2 separate regions of the Homo sapiens genome follow, and region 2 is linked to region 1. Evidence: fine-mapped expression QTL. Tissue or cell type: whole blood. Region 1 holds a variant in brackets; the other region holds the start of a gene. All regions are shown on one strand. Distances are from middle to middle.

The links. PIP is the estimated chance that this variant, and not a neighbour inherited with it, causes the effect.
Region 2: it holds the start of LRRC43, and the variant in region 1 is fine-mapped to the expression of LRRC43 in whole blood (TOPMed, PIP 0.98).

Annotation. Positions count from the first base shown.
Region 1 is chr12:122,159,240-122,164,948 of GRCh38, forward strand. No RefSeq gene overlaps it. Among named protein-coding and RNA genes, the nearest start is that of IL31, 12 kb to the right of the region's middle. The variant G/T (reference allele first, on the strand shown) is at 2,656.
Region 2 is chr12:122,179,882-122,185,590 of GRCh38, forward strand. LRRC43 (leucine rich repeat containing 43) reads left to right here and starts at 3,242. Exons shown (of 12, transcript NM_001098519.2): 1 at 3,242-3,413; 2 at 4,638-4,898. The coding sequence starts at 3,264. RefSeq lists a silencer at 3,270-3,369 and an enhancer at 4,963-5,032.

The DNA.
Region 1 (5,709 bases):
AGCACTTCGGGAGGCTAAGATGGGCAGATCACCTGAGGTCAGGCATTTGAGACCAGCTGGCCAACATGCTGAGACCCTGTCTCTACTAAAAATAGAAAAATTAGCCAGGCGTGGAGGTGGGCCCCTGTAATCCTAGCTACTCGGGAGGCTGAGGCAGAAGAGTCGCTTGAACCTGGGAGGCAGAGGTTGCAGTGAGCTAAGATCCCGCCATTGCACACCCCCCTGGGCGACAGAGCAAAACTGTCTCAAAAAAAAAAAAAAAAAATTGTGGAACAGGCAAATCCATCGAGACAGAAAGTAGATTAGTGGTTTCCAGACACTGGGGAGACTGAAAGCAAGTGGGTAGTGACTACTAATGGGGAGATAAGAATGTTCTGGAATTATATAGTGACGATAGGTGCACAACTCTGTGAATACACACACACACACACTGCTAAACTGTATAATTGTTTAATTGTAACTTTTAGAGATGAAGTTGTTTGTCTAAGGTTATGTCACATATAGTAAGTAAAGGACCAGAAACTGAATCCAAGAATAGCTGCTCTTAGCACTAATGCTGTTGGGGGAAAATGTTTCCAGGGCCATTGAATAGGAAATTAATAACGTTGGGATCTTGAAGAGCCTCAGAATTGTCATTCTAAGTATTCCTTCTCACTATAAAGTACTGTCATTTTGGGTAGTGCGTAAAAGGGCTGAGAGAAATAATATTGCATTGGTTTTACTGCAAAATTGGTTCTACAAGGAGTCACGCCAGGGGACTGCTTTGTCCATTCAGCGGGGAGATCCGAAGAGCAGATAAAGAGCTGGGGACAGTGGAGCTGAGCCTGGTGTCAGAGATGGTTGAGAAGAAACACCAATGTCACAAACCCACTGCTACAGTAAGACACCTGGGGGTGCTAAAGTCTTTTCTTACCTTATTACCAACACTTGGAAAAGCCTTCACACCTCTCCATTTCTCACCTTCTCTCCAAGTGCTATTTCTTTTTTAAAACTTGAAATCATGTTTATTTGACTGATTTCTAAAATAATACATACTAACTTTAGAAAATTTGGAAAATACATTAAAATATAAAGAAAATTCTTGGCCAGGCATGGTTGCTCATGCCTGTAATCCCAGCACTTTGGGAGACCGAGGTGGGTGGATCACCTGAGATCAGGAGTTTGAGACCAGCCTGGCCAACAAGGTGAAACCCCATCGCTACTAAAAATACAAAAATTAGCCTGGTGTGGTCGTGGGCACCTGTAATCCCCGCTACTCAGGAGGCTGAAGCAGGAGAATCGCTTGAGCCCAGGAGGCGGAGATTGCAGTGGGCTGAGATCGCACCACTGAGATCAAAAAGAAAAAACAAAAAAAGAAAAATTCTCCCCCTGCCCAAAGATTTTTTTTTTTTTTTGCCAGTCTTGCTTTCTGTCTATATGTAAGATAGGTGGACACACACACACACACAGACACTTTATTTTAAACTTATATTTTAGGTTCAGGGGTACATGTGAAGGTTTGTTACATAGCAACATGGTATGGTTAGGCTTTATGTCCCCACCCAAATCTCATCTGGAATTGTAATCCCCACGTGTCTAGCGAGAAGCCAGGTGGAGGTGATTGGATCACGGGGGCAGTTTTCCCCATGCTGTTCTCGTGATAATGAGTGAGTTCTCTCTGATGGTTTTATAAGGGGGCGCTTCTTCCTTTGCTCACCACTCTCTCTCGCCTGCGGCCATGTAAGAAGTGTCTCTTCCGCTTCTGTCATGGTTGTAAATTTTCTGAGGCCTCCCCAGCCCTGCAAAACTGTGAGTCAATTAAACCTCTTTTCTTTATAAAATAGCAAGTCTCGGATATGCCTTTTTTTTTTTTTTTTTTTTGGAGATGGAGTCTCGCTGTCTCTCCCAGTCTGGACTGCAGTGGCACGATCTCAGCTCACTGCAAGCTCCGCCTCCCGGGTTCACGCCATTCTCCTGCCTCAGCCTCCCGAGTAGCTGGGACTACAGGCGCCCGCCACCACGCCCAGCTAATTTTTTGTATTTTTAGTAGAGATGGGGCTTCACCATGTTAGCCAAGATGGTCTCAATCTCCTGACCTTGTGATCCACCTGCCTCGGCCTCCCAAAGTGCTGGGATTACAGGTGTGAGCCACTGTGCCTGGCCCCAGGTATGTCTTTATAGCAGTATGAAAATGAACTGCCAGGCGTGGTGGCTCATGCCTGTAACCTCAGCACTTTGGGAGGCCAAGGTGGGTGGATCACCTGAGGTCGGGAGTTCAAGACCAGCCTGACCAACATGGAGAAACCCTGTCTCTACTAAAAATATAAAATTAGCCGGGCGTGGCAGCACATGTAATCCCAGCTACTTGGGAGGCTGAGGCAGGAGAATCACTTGAACCCGGGAGGCAGAGGTTGCGGTGAGCTGAGATGGCGCCACTGCACTCCAGCCTGGGTGACAAGAGCGAAACTCTGTCTCAAAAAAAGAAAATGAACAAGTAAACTTGTGTCATGGGGGTTTATTTATACAGATTATTTCATCACTCAGGTATTAAGCCTAGTACCCAACAGTTATCTTCTCTGCCTGTTCCTCTCCCTCTTCCCCCCCACCCTCCTGCCCGCCTCCACCCTCCCCCTCCAGTAAACCCCAGTGTCTGTTGTTTCCTTCTTTGTGGTCATC[G/T]GTTCTCATCATCTAGCTCCCACTTATAAGTGAGAACGTGTGGTATTTCGTTTTCTGTTCTTGCGTTAGTTTGCTGAGGATGATGGCCTCCAACTCCATCCGTGTTCCCCCAACAGACATATTTTTTAACTCAATGGGGGATCGTCATAAATATATTTTATAACCTGCTTTTATAAATTAACGTCATACTTGAAGCATTTTACCCTGCCAGTAAACATTCTTTGATAAAATGACTTTGAGCGGCCACTGTTTGTTCATTGCCTTATTTTCAGTCATCGGGGTTGTATAGCAGCCGTGAAAGTGTGCCCCTCAGATTTCCCACTCTGGGAAGTATAATTGACCCAGGGCCCCCAGCTGCTGTGCCCGGAAATCCATCACCCAGCACATGGAGACCCCGCTTCCCGCAGGCTTCTCCCATCTAGAGACAGCATGGCAGGGATGCTGAGGCTGGCTCGTTCCTGGGAGACCCAGGCTTCTCTTAGGATTTTCCCACATTCGTGCTGAAGTCTCCCAGGATGGCACCGTAGGCTGAGACGCTGCCCCCAACCTCCTTTCCTTCCTTCATCCTGTCCTCCAGCAAGAGTCAGACCTGCCTGTGGTGGGACAGCTCCCTGAATCCCCTGCTCCCTCCTCTTTTCCCTCCCAGGCCTGGCTCTGATGAATCTCTTTATTTATTTAGTATTTTTTCAAGACAGAGTCTCACTCTGTCACCCAGGCTGGAGTGCAGTGGCGCCATCTCTGCTCACTGCAACCTCTGCCTCCCAGGTTCAAGCGATTCTCCTGCCTCAGCCTCCCGAGTAGCTGGGATTACAGGTGCCCGCCACCACGCCCGGCTAATTTTTATATTTTTAGTAGAGACGGGGTTTCACCATGTTGGCCAGCCTGGTGTTGAACTCCTGACCTCAGGTGATTCTCCCACTTCCACCTCCCAAAGTGTTGGGATTACAGGCATAAGCCACCACGCCTGGCCTTGATGAATGTCTTGCATGGCAAAGAATCCCATCTTGGTCCCTGCTTCTAGAGGACCTGGACTGACACAGGTCATCTCCACTTCGGTTTGCTTGTTTGGTTTTGGTGTTACCCTCAATGCTATTATGAGCATGTAAGTGTGCATATCCCATCCAAATCTAGGATTATTGCCTTAGGAAATTATGTGAGGCAGGAATTCCAGGAGAGGGTTACTGGGTGGAGACCGAATCCCTGTGTAAGGCTCTGATGCGTGTTTCAGAAGTGGCTGAGTGGGCCTTTCTCACCCTCAGGCTTTCTCACTTGTAAAGCTCTGCTGATGTGAAGGCATAAGAAACCTCCTGTTTATTTGCCTTTCTTGGTTACTTGTGAGGTTGAGCAGTTTCACATTTACTGCCTATTTAATTTCTGGCTTTATATGTAAGCATTTCTTTTTTGTTGTTGTTTTTTGTTTGTTTGTTTGTTTTGTTTTGTTTTGAGATGGAGTCTTGCTCTGTCGTCCAGGCTGGAGTGCAGTGGCGTGATCTCAGCACACTGCAACCTCCACCTCCCAGGTTCAAATGATTCTCATGCCTCAGCCTCCCGAGCAGCTGGGATTACAGGCGTGCACCACCACTCCCGCCCAAGCTTTTCTTTTGTTTTTCTCTCCCTTCTCCTCCTTCTTTTCTCATTTGTCTCTCTTTATCTGATCACCTCTTCTATTTGCTTTGTCTCTTTTTTTTTTTTTTTTTTTTTTTTTTGAGACAGAGTCTCACTCTGTCACCCAGGCTGGAGTGCAATGGTGTGATCTCGGCTCACTGCAGCCTCCACTACCTGGGTTCAAGTGATTCGTTTGCCTCAGCCTCCCAAGTAGCTGGGATTACAGGTACCCGCTGCCATGCCCAGCTAATTTTTGTATTTTTAGTAGAGACGGGGTTTCACCATGTTGGCCAGGATGGTCTTGATCTCCTGACCTCGTGATCCACCCGCCTCGGCCTCCCAAAGTGCTGGGATTACAGGCATGAGCCACTGCGCTCGGCCTTTTTTTAATTTTTGTTTTTTTGAGACAGAGTCCTGCTCAGTCACCCAGGCTGGAGTGTAGTGGCACGATCTCTCCTGACTGCAACCTCCGCCTCCCGGGCTCAAGCCATTCTCCTGCTTCAGCCTCCCAAGTAGCTGGGATTACAGGTGCCTGCCACCATGCCCGGCTAATTTTTGTATTTTTATTAGAGACGGAGTTTCACCATGTTGGCCAGGTTGGTCTTGAACCCCTGACCTTGTGATCCGCCGCCTCGGCCTCCTAAAGTGCTAGGATATTACAGGAGTGAGTCACCATGCCTGACGTTTTTTTTTTTTTTTGAGTCGGGTTTTGCTCAGTCGCCCAGGCTGGAGTGCAATGGCACGATCTCGGCTCACGCAACCTCCACCTCCTGGATTCAAGTGATTCTCCTGCCTCAGCCTCCTGAGTAGCTGGGGTTACAGGTACATACCATCAAGCCTGGCTAATTTTTGTATTTTTAGTAGAGACAGGGTTTCACCATGTTGACCAGGCTGGTCTTGGACTCCTGACCTTGTGATCTGCCCGCCTCGGCCTCCCAAAGTGCTGGGATATTACAGGAGTGAGCCACCGTGCCTGACGTTTTGTTTTTTTGTGTTTTTTTGAGACCGGTTTTGCTCAGTCGCCCAGGCTAGAGTGCAGTGGCATGATCTCGGCTCACTGCAACCTCCACCTCCCGGATTCAAACGATTCTCCCGCCTCAGCCTCCTGAGTAGCTGGGATTACAAGCACCCGCCATCAAGACTGGCTAATTTTTGTATTTTTAGTAGAGACAGGGTTTCACCATGTTGGCCAGGCTGGTCTTGAACTCCTGACAGCAAGTGATCCAACCGCGTTGGCCTTCCAAAGTGCTGGGATTACAGGCGTGAACCACTGTGCCCAGTCCTTTTTGCCTCTTTCTAGGTTTTGGCGGATTATCATCAACATAAATTCTAGTGACTTGAGAGTTTGTGCTAGTTGCGTTCCAGGTAACTTAGGAGTTATCACACTCACCCCTGCGGTGGGTTCTGTCCCATGCTGCGTCTTTCGGGAAAGGCAAATATGAGTTAGAT
Region 2 (5,709 bases), 21 kb after region 1:
AATTGCTTGAACCCAGAAGGTGGAGGTTGCGGTGAGCCGAGATTGCGCCACTGAACTCCAGCCTCGTGACAGAGTGAGACTCCGTCTCAAAAAAAAAAAAAAAAAAAGAGAGAGAGAAAGAAAAGTAACACCAGAAATACATGTTGTCATGGAATAAGATGAAAAGCAGTTTTTCAAGGAGGAAATGGTTGGCATCATCAAAAGCCATGAAGAGGTCAAATAAGATAAAGGCTGAGGAGATTCACTAGATTGGGCAACATGAGGTCACAGAAACTTTGCTGGGAGAGTTTGAATAAATTTTTGGTGTGGCAGTTATATTGTGGTGGTTTGGGAAGTGAGGAAAAAGTGAGCATAGGCCAGGGGCGAGTGGCTCACACCTGTAATCCCAGCACTTTGGGAGGCCAAGGCAGGTGGATCACTTGAGGTCAGGAGTTCGAGACCAGCCTGACCAGCATGGAGAAACCCTGTCTCTACTAAAAATACAAAAACTAGCTGGGCATGGTGGCGGGAGCCTGCAATCCCAGCTACTCAGAAGGCTGAGGCAGGAGAATTGCTTGAACCCAGGAGGCGGAGGTTGCAGTGAGCCAAGATTGCGCCACTGCACTCCAGCCTGGGCAACAGAGCAAAACTCCGTCTCAAAAGAAAAGAAAAAAAGAAAAAGTGAGTATAGACCACTGTGTCAAGAAGCTTGGATGAGAAGGAAGAGAAAAGAGACAGTGTTGGCTGCAGGGGGACTTGGGATGAAGGGTGGAAGGGCTTCCTGGCTGGGCCTCTTCTGTGTATCTTGGGCTCTGTGGTCTGCCCAGACCTGACCTCATTCCTGAGCTCTTACTCCTAACCAATGGCTGATTTGACACAGTAGACGCCCATTGGCATCTGGACCTTAACTTGTTCCAAACAGGATGCTTGATTTCCCCTCTCAGTCTTCTCTTCCTTCACTGCACATTGTCCATCTGTTGCTCCATCAAAATTGCAGGAGCCATATCTGTGATTCATCTCCTTGATTTATTTATATCACTATGGACTCATAGATATTTATTTTATTCTTTGAGAGCCAGGCATGGTGGCTCACGCCTGTGATCTCAGCACTTTGGGAGGCTGAGGTGGGTGGATCACTTGAGGTCAGGAATTCGAGACCAGCCTGGGCAACATGGCGAAACCCCATCTGTACTAAAAATACAAAAAAATTAGCCAGGCATGGTGATGCATGCCTGTAGTCCCAGCCACTCAGGAGGCTGAGGTGGGAGGACCGCTTCAGTTCAGGAGGTCCAGGCTTCAGTGACCTGTGATCACGCTACTGCACAGTAGCCTGGATAACAAAGGGAGACCCTGCCTCAAAAAAAAAAAAGGATATTTTCTTCTTTGAAAGGACATATGGTTGGCTGGGCCCGGTGGCTCATGCATGTAATCCCAGCACTTTGAGAGGCTGAGGTGGGCGGATGACGAGGTCAGGAGATCGAGACCATCCTGACTAACACGGTGAAACCCCGTCTCTACTAAAAATACAAAAAATTAGCCGGGCTTGGTGGCGGGCGCCTGTAGTCCCAGCTACTCAGGAGGCTGAGGCAGGAGAATGGCGTGAACCTGGCAGGCGGAGCTTGCAGTGAGCCGAGATTGCACCACTGCACTCCAGCCTGGACGGCAGAGGGAGACTCCGTCTCAAAAAAAAAAAAAGGAAAAGAAAGGACATATGGTCATCTTTTTGCCTTAACTCCCAGTTTTGGATAAATTTTTTTTTTTTTTTGAGACAGTCTCACTCTGTTGCCCAGGCTGGAGTGCAGTGATGTGATCTCGGCTCACTGCAACCTCCGCCTCCTGGGTTCAAGCAATTCTCCTGCCTCAGCCTCCGAAGTAGCTGGGACTATAGGCATGTGTCACCACGCCTGGCTAATTTTTGTATTTTTAGTAGAGACGGGGTTTCACCATGTTGATCAGGCTGGTCTCGAACTCCTGACCTCAGGTGATCCACCCACCTCAGCCTCCCAAAGTGCTGGGTTTACAGGGGTGAGCCATCGCGCCCAGCCTAATTTTTCTAATAACAGTAAAGTTGTCCCGATATCGTATAGTCAAAAAGAATGAGAGATGTTAATGTGTTCCTCCAAAATTCATTTGTCAGAACCTGATGCCCAGTGTGATAGTATTAAAACGTGGGGCCCTTTGGGAAGTGATTAAGTTTGGGGGCTCCTCAGGAATGGGATCAATGTCCTTATAAAAGAAGCTTCATGGCTGGGCGTGGTGGCTCACGCCTGTAATCCCAACACTTTGGGAGGCTGAGGCCAGTGGATTGCCTGAGCCCAGGAGTTTGAGACCAACCTGGGCAACATGGTGAAACTCCATCTCTACTAAAATACAAAAAATTAGGCTGGGTGCGGTGGCTCACGTATGTAATCCCAGCACTTGGGGAGACCGAGGTGGGTGGATCACCTGAGGTCAGGAGTTCGAGACCAGCCTGGCCAACATGGTGAAACCCCGTCTCTACTAAAAATACACATTAGCGGGGCGTTGTGGCAGGCGGTTGTAATCCCAGCTACTCGGGAGGCTGAGGCAGGAGAATCGGTTGAATCTGGGAGGCGGAGGTTGCAGTGAGCCGAGATCGCGCCATTGCACTCCAGCCTGGACAACAAGAGTGAAACTCGGTCTCAAAAAAAAAAAAAAAAAAAAAAAAGCCGGAAGTGGTCATGCGCGCCTGTAATCCCAGCTACTCGGGAGGCTGAGGCAGGAGAATCGCTTGAACCCGGGACACGGAGATTGCGGTGAGCTGAGATCTCGCCACTGGACTCCAGCCTGGGCGACAGAGCGAGACTCTGTCTCAATAAAATAAAATAAATAAAAAATTTAAAAAATGAGGTCTGGGTGATTAAACAGTTATACAGGTGGACAGTGATAAAATCCCTGACTCCAGGGTTAGAGAGACCACCCTGGAACCCACTGGCTGGTTGGAGTCGAGATGTTTGACCTTGGGCCCTCTTCTCCTTTCTCCATCTGTCAGATGGGTATAGGATGACTTTCCGTGGGGAGTGCTTGACAGGAGCTAAGAAACAGGTCAGCTATGGCGCTTACTGCCTGCGGGAGCTGCCGCACTTAGAACCACCAGCTGTTATCCCATTTTTATAGATGAGGGCAGAAGAGAAAACGCAGGTGGTTGGGGCCAGGCTGTCTGATCCGGATGGGGGACTTTTCCCTCGGGGCAGGTGAGAGCGCCTGGAGAGGCCCCTGCCCCCGCGCACGCGTCCTAGCGGTTGCCGGGCAACGCGGCCCGGGCCATGGAGGCGTCGTACGAGTCCGAGTCCGAGTCCGAGTCTGAGGCCGGGCCTGGGACTCAGCGGCCCGGGACCGGGACCGTGAGCGCGGCCGTGCGCGAGCACTTGCGGAAGCTGTGTCTGCGCGAGTTCCCGTGCGGTGCCGGCAGCTGGGTGCGGGCGCCGGGGCCGGAACTCTGGGGGCCTGGACCGGCTGCGGGGAGGCACGGGCCCGGGCGAGCGGAGCGGGCTGGTCCCTGGGGCCTGGGATCTGCGCATTCTGGGGGCCGCCGACATGGGGGCGGGTGGGGCTTGAGGGTGACGGTGGGGCCCGAGTCGCGGGCACTGCGCGGGGAGGAGAGCGGGGCCCGTCCTGAGCACATCAGCTGACCTGGGCTGGGGCCTCTCCCTGACTTGAAGACGTCAACACCCCAGATTTCTAGTGGGCAGGCTCCTTTTGGGGTGAAAAGCTTTTGTTTTGGGCAAAGAGTTCCACAACTTTTCCCAGCCTCCGAGCATTTAATAAGAGCCTGAGGCAGTGTGAGAGGTGGCTCAGCCTGAAGCCTGCGACCTTGAGTCCAGGAGAAGGGGTTACCCCCCATCCTGCCTCCCTGTCTCCAGAGTCCTAGACCCTTCCCTCCCGTGGCTTCAACCACGAGGGGCGCCCAGGTGTGGCCCAGGAAGGCTTACTGCCCAGGCTGGAGCATAGTGACGCGATGTCGACTTACTGCAACCTCCGCCTCCCAAGTAGCAGGGATTACAGGCACCTGCCACCATGCCCGGCTAATTATTGTATTTTTAGTAGAGACAGGATTTCACCATGTTGCCCAGGCTGGTCTCAAACTCCTGACCTCAAGTGATCCACCTGCCTTTTTAAAAGGAATGGCACCTTTTAATTATTTTGTATCTCACCTCATCTGTAGTTATATCCATGGCTAATAATCCATCAAAATTATTGATTATTCACTGTCTAGATTTTTTTTTTTTTTTTTGAGACGGAGTCTCGCTCTGTCACCCAGCCTGGAGTGCAGTGGCGTGATCTCGGCTCACTGCAACCTCCGCCTCCCGGGTTCAAACGATTCTCCTGCCTTAGCCTCCCGAGTAGCTGAGACTACAGTTGCGTGCCACCACGCCCGGCTAATTTTTTGTATTTTTAGTCGAGACGGGGTTTCACCGTGTTAGCCAGGATGGCCTCGATCTCTTGACCTCATGATCCGCCTGCCTCAGCCTCCCAAAGTGCTGGGATTACAGGCATGAGCCACCGCACCTGGCCTACTCTCTAGATTTCTAAACTCTATCCCTAATCGTCCAGTTTTATGATCTGTTCTGTTTTGAGAGTTTGGTGTCCTTAAGGGGGCTGTGTCACACCTACAGAAAATCCCTCCTCTGCCACTGCAGAATAAGTCGCGCTTTCTTCCTCAAACTTGGCGAACTTGGAGGGAGCTTGTCCCCAGAGAGGAGGATGTGGTGAGCCCCGGAGAGGAGACGGTGGAGGCCCTGCTGGGCCTGGTCCGCAGCCGCCACTCCCCCTGGGCTCTGCTGAACAACTCGAATGCAGAAGACAGTTTCCTGAGAGAATTGGCCATCCGGAACCCGCTGACGATCACAGACACCTTCTTCTACTCCTACTTCCGGTCCCTGCGGGTAATAGACAAGAAGGTCAGTGCTGGGCACGTGGTAGGTGATGTTAGGGTGGCCGCTCCCCTAAGGGAGGTTGTGGGGAGGGCACCCTTCCCCACAGCGCGTCAGGGATCCTGCTTTCAGGGCTGAAACGAAGGCCAGCCTGCCCTCCATCTGCTTCATCTCCCTGGCTTGTGTGCCAGGCAGGGCCGGCTACTCGGTCAGCCTTGCGTTTCTTCTTCCTTTACCCCTGGAAGCCATCATGGCACAGCTTCCACCCCTGAGTTCTGCAGTGGACCCTCCTGGGTCCTAGTAAAGGTTTTTTGAAGGGTCTGTGTTAGTTTTACTTCGTTTAAACCGTGGGGGTCAGGGTAGGGGAAGGTTGGTGTAGTTCTATTTTAATTTGTTACCAAAAAGCATTCTTTGTTTACATCAGTAGCAGAGCCCAGTCTCGGCATGGTGGCTCTCTGGTGCTTGTAATCTCAGCACTTTGGGAGGCTGAGGCAGGAGGATCGTGTGAGTCTAGGTGTTAGAGGCCCAGCCTGGGCAACATAGTGGGATCCCACCTCTGTAACATCTTTAAATTTAGCCAGGTATGGTGGTGCACGCCTGTAGCCCCAGCTACTCAGAGGCTTAGGCAGGAGAATCACTTGAGGTGGGGAGGTAGAGGCTGCAGTGATCATGATCGCACCGCTGCACTCCAGCCTGGGTGACAGAATGAGACCCTGTCTCAATCAATTAAGCAAGCAAGCAAACAAGAGTGAGACTCTGTCTCAATAAATAAATAAAGCCAGCAAGCCAGCCCAAAAATTGCCTGGAAACTTGGTCTCAGCCTTCCCAACCCTTGGCT